2 linked regions of the Homo sapiens genome follow. The protein of the gene in region 2 interacts with the protein of the main gene of each other region in a biochemical or structural test. Each region holds a gene or a part of one and is shown on either strand. Other genes may lie near its edges. The genes, in order: ACVR2B and GDF11.

Region 1 (7,290 bases), on a different chromosome or scaffold from region 2:
CAAATGTGGAAAAATATTAACAGGTGAAAAACTTGGCCTTTGACACTACCATTAAGATCATGTCCAGTTCATAAGCAGATTTTTGTACAGTTGAAAAATGGCATTGTTGTGGATTTGTGGTGTGGAACTGAAATCTAGAAATATATTTCTACTCTGCGGTAACCCTCTCCCTCAATTCTGAAGTACCACTCAACTTTCTCTGCATTTTTACAGAATTACAGAAAAAAAGAGGAAAAAAAAGCCGCTGGCATTTTAACAATTCCTTCCCTCACTGGCAGTCTTAACATTTTCAGATGAGGTCTCCTGAAGAATCTCTAATAATCACTTGCTCCCAGTCGGCCTTTCATGATGACTTGGACACTTTTCAAGTTAAAACTCAGATGTTGCCTAATCTTTTCTACTCTCATCTCTGTCATTGTTGGTAAAATTTGGGTGACTGCATTTTTCCCTTACGGAGAAATTATTTGGCTAAACACACACTTAACTCGTGGCAGTGCTCTGAGAAAACCCCACTCGGGCTAAAGCACTTGCAGGGACTGAAGTCAACAGTCCACTGAATGGGGCAGAGAACAAACACTTAAGATGACTGACTTGGGACCCTCACTGGGAACACACTGACCTTGTGTCCCATGGTCTGCGGAACAGCAGGTCTACAGGACTGCAGGAGAGCCCAGGAAGGTAGCCCATGCTCGTATAGCTGAGTTACCACTTTTAATCTTGGTCTGCCATCTATGCCCCAGAGACAAAAATTCAGATGCGGTGACTGCTGGTTAATTAAACTTTTTGAACTGGTAAAAAAGGCTCTTTAAAAAATATATATATTTATTTAAAATACATCAAAATGACAAACAGCCATATCCCACAAGGCCTAATTTCACAGCAACATATGCTACAGACATCTTCCCAAAATGCACTATGGTGGATAGTGGGTTTTTTATCCTGCCATTTAAAGGAATGTTCTACATTTGAGCATTAGCGACTGGAAATGTGTTACAAAGAGCTTATCTTTGGAACTAATTTGCGTGCAAGACCAGCCAATTAAATCGCTTTGCCTATTCAGACACACAAGAATACTGAAAATGGCAGAATTCAAAGAGGAACACAGGAAGCACCATTCAGATGACACTCTAGACCCATCCCACCACAATGCCATGACGAGCTTGCCAGAAGCCCTTTCTTCAGTCCTTGGGAAGAGTTTTGCTTTAAAACAAGTGCCCACGCTCAGCAGGGTTCCTGCATGTGTACGTTAAAAGTCTGCAGTATCAAGAGGACCCAGATGGCGACACTGTTCAACATGAGGTCTGAGGTAACTGGTTCTTAAAATACCTGGATCACAGAAGTGCATCCAGAAATTAGGGCTGGGAAAAAGGAAAAAGGTAGAGGTTGGGGACTAGAAAAGACAAGTAGAAAAAAGCTTACAGCAGTTGCTTTTGGGGCGAAGAGAGTGATAAAAACAAAGGCACAACAGAATTACATTCCAAGACACGTGGCTGGAGAGCAGAGAAAATGTTCTTTTTATGGGGAACAGATGGGGTTGGTTTCTGGAGTGCTACTAGATCTGCTGGAACTAAATTTATTCCAAGTATAAAAAGGGTAAAGTGTAAACCTATACGCTCAACCAGAATGAATAAAAAGCACAGCTGGTTTAAAATGACACATTAGGGATTCTCTTGATAAAACTATCCCGTCCAGTGCACCTCTGTCTAGAAGCAGCAGCCTGAAGCCAGCGGGCAGGGTCTGGGGGACAGGTCTTCAGCTGGGCCTCAGGACTGGCCATTATGCATACCAGAAATTAACTTAATTATTCATTATATATCGCCACCAAAAGTCCCACACAAATAACCATCCACTCTCTGCCTAAAAATAAATAGGCTAAAATGAAGACCACTTTCCGTATTGTGGCAGTGATGCTGAGCTTCCTCAGAAAAGCAGGAAAACTCTGGAGCTATCTGAAAGATGCTCTGCTGTTACTGGGGTTCTGAGCTTCCTCACTGGGCTCCTGGCTGATTCCACAGATTGAAGCAGCGAGCCAACCCAACCATTCTCACTGACCAGAGAGGACAAAATGTGCCTGGCAGCTCTCCATTTAATTGGATCACTGCATCCACATGCCACCCTCCCCACTTTTCTGAACAATTACTTAACTGGGTAATTCTGCCCCCCAACCTGGATAATGTGATCTTAGATAATTCAGTCTGGTGGATTACTCAAACCACCAGATTCTCATTTCAAAGTTTTTGTACCTGAATCTTATTCGAGTCCCATCCCACCCCAATAGGCACCCCTATACAATTTCTGTTCCCCCAAACACTCTCACATGACTATGTCCTATGGCAAAGGCTTACAAACTAATTTTTGACCTCAGAACCCTTTGTTCAACAGAAATCTCAGGAGGAAGCACCAATGTAAAACACATTGCAGGCCCTCTCTCCTCCCAATCCACAAGAAGCTGAGCTGAATATCACTGTCCTACACAACCACAAGTGGAGTTTTGGCCAAAAAAGACCCGCAAATTGACTCCAGTCTGCCAGTGTATCACAAGAATCCATATAAACACTAAGTAAAAGTTCCACACCACTCATGCTCCAGTGTACGTTTCTCTTGAAAGGTAAAGCTCATTAGCTCTGATTACAAAATCATTCAAATTCACTAACTTTATAAAAATAATCTGTGGTATAAAACAATCTCCACACTGTGTAGAAGAAATCTGTCAAGTGATATAACTAAATATATATGTAGAACTATCGATTTTTTTAAAGTAAAGTTTCAAGTGTTGTGTATCTATTATACAACCTATTCTTTTATTTACAATGCTAACATTCTGACGCAAACATGATTAGGAGAGTCAGGGAATGAGCCCACACTCAACCAACAGAGAAGTTCCCAGGACTCAAGACAGAACTCATGCATTTGCAAGAAGACCCATCCTCACCTGCCTGAAAAACTTGTGGGTCATATTTTTCATAACTGTGAGCTCAAAAATGTAAACTTTGCAAGTGAATGTAATACTCTTCTGTAGATGTCCAGCATAGCCCAGGTTTATATAACCCCTTCCATACACACAAAGAGTGGTGTGTACATTGCTTTAGTGCCCTGTGGTTGGTTTACAGTAGTTCTCAGAATTACCTAGGCCCTAGACAATCCAAAGACACTGCCCTAGAGAAATGAAGGCAGTGCAGGGCCCATCACCACACATTGGCATTTAGAGAATATGTGTTTCAATTACTGAGGAAAAATCACTTCGGTTACCTCTATGAGCTGCCATAGGAGCAAATAAAGTATCACTGGTTTTGGCACTACAGGGGATACAGGAAGTACCACAATCAAAAAGTCATGTTTCATTCATACCTGGAAAATACCATCATGAAAATGTAAAAACTTGGTAATAATTTAAATAATGGTAAATTCTTTAAATTCAAATTCTTTTTTGAACCAAAGTTTACAGTGGACCCAAAATAAACATAAAACATTCAAAATGTCCCACTAGATAATTTGGACTTTTCTTTGTTGGCAGGCCTTTTGGAGCCACCAATTGTTTTAAAAAATGTTACTGGGTCAACCGAATTAATTTTCAAGGGGGTGTTTTTCCTACAAAACTAAATCATTATTTCAAAAATCTTTTCCAATCTTCTAAAGGTTTGGGATACATTCATAGGTAGACTGCTGGTTGCAAATCAACTATCTGGAATCTTACTTAAAGAACTATGCTTATAACCCTGAATTCATTAAACATTTACAAATCTAGACTGAGAAGATATACAGTTCATCAACTGAATTACTGGGCCTGTTTATCTAAAACATTACTGTCAATTGAGATTTAAACTCATCATTACTAGATTGAACATGTTAGCTGCTAAGTATTTCATTAGTTTAGAATTTGCAAACAGCCATTAACTAAAAGAATTCATGTCACCCCAGTGAGAAGGAGAAAAAGACACCTTGTCCCCTTCTCTTTTTGGCTGTTCGCCCAGGATGAAGGGTAGATGACTAGATTCACGGAGCTTCTTAAAAAGGTATGGTCTGATGCCCCTGAAATGGGAATCAGGCGTGGCCATCTCTCCAAAGGTGTGCCATCAAAAACTCAACAGGCTAAAATAACTGAGACTGAAAATTAAACTGAGTTAACTCCTGGAAACTGCTTTCCAATTAGTATATTTTTCTAGTGAAATAAAGTTCTCGAGAATAACTAGCTGTCCAACTTCTAGTACCAATTCTAAAAACTTACATACTTATGCTTACTGTATTATTTTAAAAACCAGCAAATCTTTGTGTTACCAATAGATGCTGGAAACTTTATACTGCATACTAAAAAAGGCAAAATTCTAGTTTCAAGAGGGCCATCCAATACTCCCACTTTAATGGAACAGCCACCTCCCCACCCTCACGGCTCAGAGCACAGGGGCCAAGTGACAGGCTTTCTGAGCCACACACAACACATGAAGGACATTCAATACACAGCTGGGCTTCCTTCCACCAGGGAAAAACCCCACACACAGCCCGAGCACACAAAGCATAGCAGGATGGAGGAAACGAGAATGTGGCCAACTGAAGAGAAAGGTGACAGAGCCCAACTACAGGATGAAGTGCTTTGCTGTCTAAGTTATGTCAAGAGGGTTAGCCTAGCCTCTTAGGGCAATGGAAGAACTATCTCTGTGGCCTGGAGATGAGAGACCCTTCCCTTTGCTAAGAATATGTGAGCAAGAGTCTCTATCCTCCTGAAGATGTTCAAGGCTGAAAAACAACCTCCTTTTTCTGCAGAAACACCCCCAAGTCCGGACATGATGTATTCAGAGTCAGAATCAGCTGGCACGTGTGGGTATGCCCTCCCCAGGCAGGACTGGTCCCACAGGCTCCTCTCCAGAGCAGACAGGACAAGAAGGCCATGCTGGACAACAAAGGCTAATAATGCTCACCATCTTCCCTCACTGCCAGGTGTCACTTTCTCCTAAGCACAGCCCACTTGCAGCCCTTGCCCCTGAGCAACTCATGCAAAGAACTCCTGCTGAGGACCAATGGTCCCAGGAGAAAACCCAGCTTATGCCAGGCCAGGATGTTCTGATGACTATGTCTACAGCCTTCCCCAATGCCCCATCATTGAGGGCCCTCTGCGTGACACTGTAATACAATGGCCTCTGTCCTCACTTGCTTCCTCCTTCTGCTCATTACTGGATTTCTCCAACTAGGGATGACTTCTCAGTTATCATAGATGCTTTCAAAGAAGATTCTTCCCCAAGGCCCATCCCTACAGCCAGGAGCCTGCTTGGATGACAGCACACTAGAAAGGAAGAAGCAAGGATCCTTGGCTACTCTCTGCTAACTTGGTCCCCTCCCACCCTGCATGGAACAGCCCCTCCCATTGACAGGGAAAATGATGCCAGGCCCCATTTTCCCCAGTCTGCCACAGAGCCTGAGGTCAAAAACAAAAAGAAACCAATTATCTGAGCCCACCAAAAGTGCATGTCACATGAAGTCATTATGGAAAAGAGCACAGGCAGAGGCTCTATGACCCAGTAAATTCAAAGCAGGGCTCGAGATGGCTCACTCCTCAAAGAACACATGACAGCAAACAGACAAGCATTTACCCGGGGCAAAAGGCCCATCTGTGCTCCTAGACCCATGCCCTATAAGGAGATCCCCCACCTTCTTCTTGCCATCAGAACCAGATATACCACCTGATGGGTGCACTTTACACCACAGCATGAGGGGAAGAGTGGCCTGAAGCCCAAAGAACTGGCATGGACCACACTCCTCCCCAGCCACACCAAAAAGGTACCATCTCCTGACACACAATCTGATGGCAAGGCCCCACAGGGACACTATAGTGGCTGAGCGTACGGTGGGCCTAACGGGGAGGCCACCCAGAGAAAAGGCACGCAGGCCTGACCTGTCTGTACTGTGTCTTGACCGCAAAGTCCCACACCAGAACCATGGCTCAACCCTCCCTTGGCCAGGTCAAAACTTCTCACAAGAATCAAGCCAGCACACAAAAGAAAAACCACCCAGAGGAACTAAAACCAAACAAAGAGGCTGGGGTTTAGTGTTCAGGTAGTATCATGACCTAACTATTCCTGCAGTAAATTTGCTACATTTGTTAGTCGTTTGTTTCTTCTGAGGATGAAAAGTAAAGATGCCTGCACTGCCTGAGGCGAAAGCTAAAGAAATTAGATATGGCACTTTTCAATAAATATTTTAAAGCTTCTTAAAGAAATAAATGGTAAAGAAAAGCAACTGCTGTAAGGCCTGTTTTGCCATTAAAAATTATTCTAAGGGAAAAAAAATACCACAGCACAAAATCAAACCATTAAAAAAAAAAAAAAAAAAAAAAAAAAAGACAACATAGCTTACCGAAACCCTGTTCCTGTAACCACTTGGCCAGCCCACATTTTGACCCATGAAGCAAAAACTGAGCTCCGAGAGGGAAGCAAATGGGCCTCCCATAGCACCCTGTGCCCCAACACCCAGAGGAAAGGACCCCGGGGCAGTAAGCCCCAGACACTGAACATAGCACACTAGGTAGATGCCCAGGCATGTGCAGTGCCCCTCACACTGTGGACTCCAAGACCAGCAAGGGCAAAACCCTTCACTCCCAGACACGCTGCACTAAAAGACTGGCCTGAGTCACGGTGTGCTTCACAGAGGCGCCACAGATCTCTTCCAACGTTGCTGTTAATTTGCTGAAGAAGTTAAATCCCAAGTAAAATCACCCCATTCAGGTCTAAGGGCCATCCTTCTACCAAGTTTAAGCGGGGTTACTTGTCATTCTGAACACTGACCGATCAAGTTACATGTTACATGTGAATTACATGTGAAGCTCCAAACAACCCAAGAGGAGGCGGCCTCTTCAGTTCTCACCCAGGTCAACCTCTCCCCACGGCCCCCGCCTTGCCTACCCTCACGATGAAGAGATGCACTGTTTTTAAATAAAATGATCTAAAGAAACCAGAAGGAAAAGCCTTCACAAACAAGACTGATAAATGCCCAGACTTGGCCCAGACAGCCAACCTACAGTTGATGACAATTATTTACAAGGGGGCGTTATCAAACAAAAATGGTAGCACTCCCTAGAAGATGCAAACTTTTTTCTTTTTCTCTATTTCTTTTAAACTTCCTTGTCACAAAAGCCAACTTACATTAAAATATACTTACTACAAGACAACACAACTAACAAAATATATAATAAACCTTACATAAGTAGAAAATTCTGAGGTATTTCTGGTTTGAGGTGATCTGTGGTCGTGAAGTTTTAATTCTTTTACTTTTCAAAATTTAAACCTTGGAAGCCACATAGCG
Region 2 (4,933 bases):
ATAGCTACTGTCTGGGCCTGACTGCTCAGAAGGGCATCTCCTTCACCTCTATGAATAGCATTGGTTAATCCTTTATCCTCTGAAATCTTCCGTCTCCCCATTGACTGGAAGACTTTTCCCAGCCTGTTAAGAGCCCATTGTTTCCAGGCTAGCTTGATCTCAGGCTGAGTGGCTCTCTTTGCTTCAGGAATCTTCCCATTTTCTACCACTGTTCTTCTCTCTGTCCCTCACCCCCAGTAATCTTCTTTACTCCTCACCCTCCTTACCCATTAAACTTTCCAGCTCCTACTGGATAACTGGAAGGATTGGAGAGATTCAGGAATGAAATCTCTAGCTACCAAGCTCAAGTCTGGGCCATCCTTCCTTCTCGGGCCTTGTGACAGTTCATGTGAGTTTGGATTAAAGCAGCCAGGAACCCAGGCAACTATTGTCTTCAGTCTAATTTTTTTCTTCTTGCTTCTTCTTTACAGGCAAAGAAGAGGAAAAGAGCAGAGCGCTTTGGGATTGCCTGATGAAAAGTTCCTGATACTTTCTGTTCTCCAGTGTTTTCCATTTCTCTCCTTCTTCTTGGTCACATATATGCCTAAATGCACAGTCATGTGCCTACGTCCTGCCTCGCAATGAGGGAGCATGTACCCCAGGTACATCCATGAACTGCGGCAGCAGTTTGACTTATTGCTGTTTCAGCTTTAAGGTTGTTGTGTTTTTGTTTTTGATTATGTTGCTTGTTAATAAAAAAAAATAGAAAAGAGAACAATGTGTTTTATTAGGTGCTCCTTTGATTTATTGGAGCTAGATTAGACCAGATAAGGGGAGCTTCAGGGGCAAATATTATAGAGAATTGGCCATAATACCTTTATCCCTTAGAAGAGAAGACAAGGAAAAGGACTGAGTTTACCCTTTAAGCCTGTTTATTCCCTTCTGTCATACTCACAAGCATTTTTTATCCTCTGTGAAGAGGTTAAGTTACCCACCCACCAAGTCTTTGCTCCAGCAGCTTGTAGTGACCCACTGAAATAAAACAGAACATGGGAGGTTTTAGGTGTTGCAAAGGATATAAATACAAGGGCAGTGATTAGTAGCCTTCTGTTATTAGCTAATAATGCAGACTTTTTCTTGGATAAAATGGAGTCCAGGGTCCCACATTAAAGGAAAAGGGCCCTGATTTCAAGGGTGATGTGATACGATACTATGTTGGTCAGTCAGTTCAGGAAGGGAGATGGGCTGGATATCCCTCAGAGACAGAAGAAATTTTGTATGCAGAATCAAAGCATGACAGAGGATGTCAGAGCTGTTACGCATTGTTAGCTAAATCATTGGGAACATAAGCAGTGGAACTGGAGGCTTCAAGTTCATGTAGATCTGAAACCTGCTTAATCTTTTTGGATATGTTATTGCAGAATTTCTCCTCTTAATCTTTATATAAGCTCGGTTTTTGTTTGAGCTATTTTTGGTAATAAGACTTAGGAGCCTGACACCTTACCTGAAGACTTTGGTACTATGATCAGGTCCCATGTTGCTGTGGTGTAATCCTTTATCCTTATTTCTACTAAAACCTGCCTGGTTTTGTGCTTAATGAAATGGTAATAGTTTGATCACCTTTCTAATGTCAAGATATCTCTTTATTTCTCCAAAGTCTCTGGTTGGTGAGGAAAGCAGGGACCTAAAGTTTAGATAATTTAGAAAAATTGTGCCTTGGAGAGCAGATCCAAAAACTGCTGCCCATTTGTTGTGAAGTTTGCCCCATTCTGAGACTTTGGAGAAGTGAACAAAAGGGAATGCTGGTTAAATTTTTGACACCTCTTCAACCAAATAAACCTTAAAATTGGAATGACCTTCCCTTTTCCCTCTTTTCTGTCTGCCTTCCTTTTCTTTACCTCAGGCTCTGATCTTGGGGCTAGCTTTTCCTCTCTCTACTCTGCCTTCATCTGAAAACAGAATAGATCTGATTTGTAACTTGAGAGATTATAGATTCACTAATGGTTTCTTCCTGAATATGGTTTTAAAAAGAGAAAAATACATGAGGGAATAGAGCAGATGCTGATTATGAAGTGGAACAGTGGATCTTTTGGAAGTTTTCTTCGTCTCTTTATCCTCTATAACCTTCCAGAAAGATATTCAGCCTTACTTGCCAGGATTCTCTTCTTGAAGCCTAATTATTCTCCTCACTCATCTTACTTCCCCTAGATCTTTGAACAGTGTTTTCCAATTTGTGAGGATTTTTTTTTTTTTCTTATTAACCTCTTTCATCCCATTTCAGCAGCTGTTCCTATGTTGGTCAGAAGTCTCTAACCTCCAAGCCAGATGAAGTCCTCCCCTTCCTATCTCATTATAGTCATTCTCCACATACTCTTTGAGCATGAATAGTTCAGGATGCCTTTTTCCCAATTCAGTTTTAAAATAGTAATTCCGTTTGGAGATGGAACAGACATTGAGGCTTGTAATTGTTTACCTGAGATCTTAGTACCCTTCCTTCCTCTCCCCGTTTCCCTACTATAGTTGATCCAGCATCCAGATGTGGTTAACTGATTCCAATTCCTGAAGCTGTGACATTCTCTGCATACCTGGAAGCTCTTAATGAGGGAGTCTATAAAAGCTGTGGGGAGAACTAGCTTCCTCAGCTGTAAATCTGTACTTTTTTATGGTTCTCTAGGATTATTCTTTTTTTCCACTCTCACTCTAAACTGCCCAGCCCCCCACCCCACCTCTTAAGAACTGCTGAAGATAGAGGCTAGAAGCTTCTGTGAGGATGAGGGCTATAGGAAGGAAGGTGTGAATAAGGGCAGGACTTCTTGGTGTTGAGCTGAGTTCTCTTGCTGTGTCTGATATGAGGAGTGAGGGAGGAACTTAAGGGAGGATAACTTTTTTGCTGTTCTCTTATATGAGGGCCTCTGGCAATGCCACTTATTTCTGATTATTGGAATCCCCCCAAAATTTAACCTCCCCTTCTCTTGCCATATCTAGACTTTTCTTGTTTTTCCCTTCCAAAGGGATTTAAAATTACAGGTTTCACATCTTTCCAGATTCTTTGAGTCCAAGGTGTCCCTAACTTTCTTGTTATCTCTTTCCCTTATGTTATTCCTGTATTTAGGTTTCTACCTCCCGGATCACTTTCAATAGGATAGATTAGAATGTAATATTGTTTAGCAACTACTTAGGTTTAATTTCTTATTCTACCACACTAGCTCTGAGACCCTGCGCAGATAATCATTCTCTTTTCAGACTGTACCAAAAGGAACCCCATTGTGAAGGTTGCTGTGTGAATTAAGTGATATTCTCATATCATGTATTCACACTACAATTTGCTTACCATAATTTGCATAGTAATTATTCAATAAATATTAGCTTTTACTGGGTGATCAGGGTACTGTGGAAATACATATTTCTTTCCCTGAGTAGGTTCTAGCTAGGTATGAGTGCCCTAGTTTGAACATGTTTGTGTGTGCATACACCCAGTTAATGCAGTCGTATTTTGAGAAAAAGAAAAGGCAGAAAGAGTCCCATTCACTCCCTCAAGCCCAGCTCACTGGCAGGAAAGCTGGACATTGTTGCTTTGGAGCATTGATTTTCCTGCTTCTACGCCACTACAGACCAGAAGCTGTAGATGCCACTGCCTGCTGATTCTTAGCTTGGGGCCCCTGCCATTTAAAATATAGGCAAGGTCAGAGTATAGGATAGCTTCCCATGCCTTCGGTTGGAGGATGTTTTAGGATAAAGAAAAGACTTGTAAAAAGTCATCTTGAGTAGTCTTTTTTTGGGTGTTCTCTCAATATAGGAAACAAATGAGCCACAGGGAGAGAAAACCCATTTTCAGCTCAGGCCAAAGTTAGGGGTAGATGTGGATATGGTTCCCTTGGGAAGATAGAATACATAACACTTCTGCTACTCAACCACTTCCAGCCTTAGTCTTGTAGTTGGTCTCGAGTGGGGTCAGTGTGCTGATAGAACTGATAAGACAGGGAAAACATGGCAGTACATTGAACCCGCAGTAGCGCTGTCCCCAATTCTGGATCAGGTTGATGTCACAGGAGCTTTCCTTATTTTTATTTTACTTTAATTATTTTTAGAGACAGTGTCTTACTGTGTTGCTCAGCTTGGAGTACAGTGGCTATTTACAGGCCCAATTATAGCACACTGCAGCCTTGACCCTCTGGCCTCAAGTGGTCCTCCTGCCACAGCCTCCTGAATAGCTGGAACTACAGGAGCACACCACTGGGTCCTGCTTTCCTTTTTTTTTTTTTTTTTTTTTTTTTGGAGATGGGAGTCTCACTCTGTCACCATGCTAGAGTGCAGTGGTGCGATCTCAGCTCACTGCAACCTCCGCCACCTGGGTTCAAGCGATTCTTCTGCCTCAGCCTTCCATGTAGCTGGGATTACAGGCGCACGCCACCACGCCCGGCTAATTTTGGGTATTTTAGTAGAGATGAGGTTTCACAATGTTGGCCAGCATGGTCTCGAACTCCGGACCTTGCATGATCCGCCCGCCTCGGCCCCCCAAAGTGCTGGGATTACAGATGTAAGCCACTGCGCCCAGCCAGCTTTCCTTATTTTTGAAAAATGTGAGTCAGGCAATATTCTTTTGCCATTCCCAACTCATATTCCTGGGGAATTGTGCTCTAGGTACATGGGAAAAATTTTTACAGTGAACTGAAAGAATATTTGAGATGCTATTTTAGCCACTCTTGTGTAACAAGGCAAGTTCGTTGGCTATGTTGGTTTAGATTTTTGTCAAACTTCGTTGAGGAAACCTAGGAACAGGGACTGCAGGAGAATAGGACACTAGCTGGATCATCTCAAGAGAACCTTTAGATCTTCCATACTAGCTGGATCATCTCAAGAGAACCTTTAGATCTTCCATTCTGTGGAGGCTGGGAGAGGGGTCTTGTTGTCTTTGGGACTGTTTTGGCTCAAGCTTTTCAGAGAGGGGTTGTTC

Evidence for each region.
Region 1: the proteins of GDF11 (region 2) and ACVR2B interact in a biophysical measurement, tested with the Homo sapiens proteins (one study listed by IntAct).

What each region holds. Positions count from the first base shown.
Region 1 is NC_000003.12:38,484,707-38,491,996, reverse strand, and holds part of ACVR2B (activin receptor type-2B precursor), read right to left. Parts: 3' UTR 1-7,290. UniProt on the Homo sapiens protein: Transmembrane serine/threonine kinase activin type-2 receptor forming an activin receptor complex with activin type-1 serine/threonine kinase receptors (ACVR1, ACVR1B or ACVR1c).
Region 2 is NC_000012.12:55,753,091-55,758,023, reverse strand, and holds the end of GDF11 (growth/differentiation factor 11 preproprotein), read right to left. Parts: 3' UTR 760-4,933; downstream 1-759. Other genes in the region: SARNP (SAP domain-containing ribonucleoprotein), read left to right, coding at 471-512. UniProt on the Homo sapiens protein: Secreted signal that acts globally to regulate anterior/posterior axial patterning during development. May play critical roles in patterning both mesodermal and neural tissues. It is required for proper vertebral patterning and orofacial development.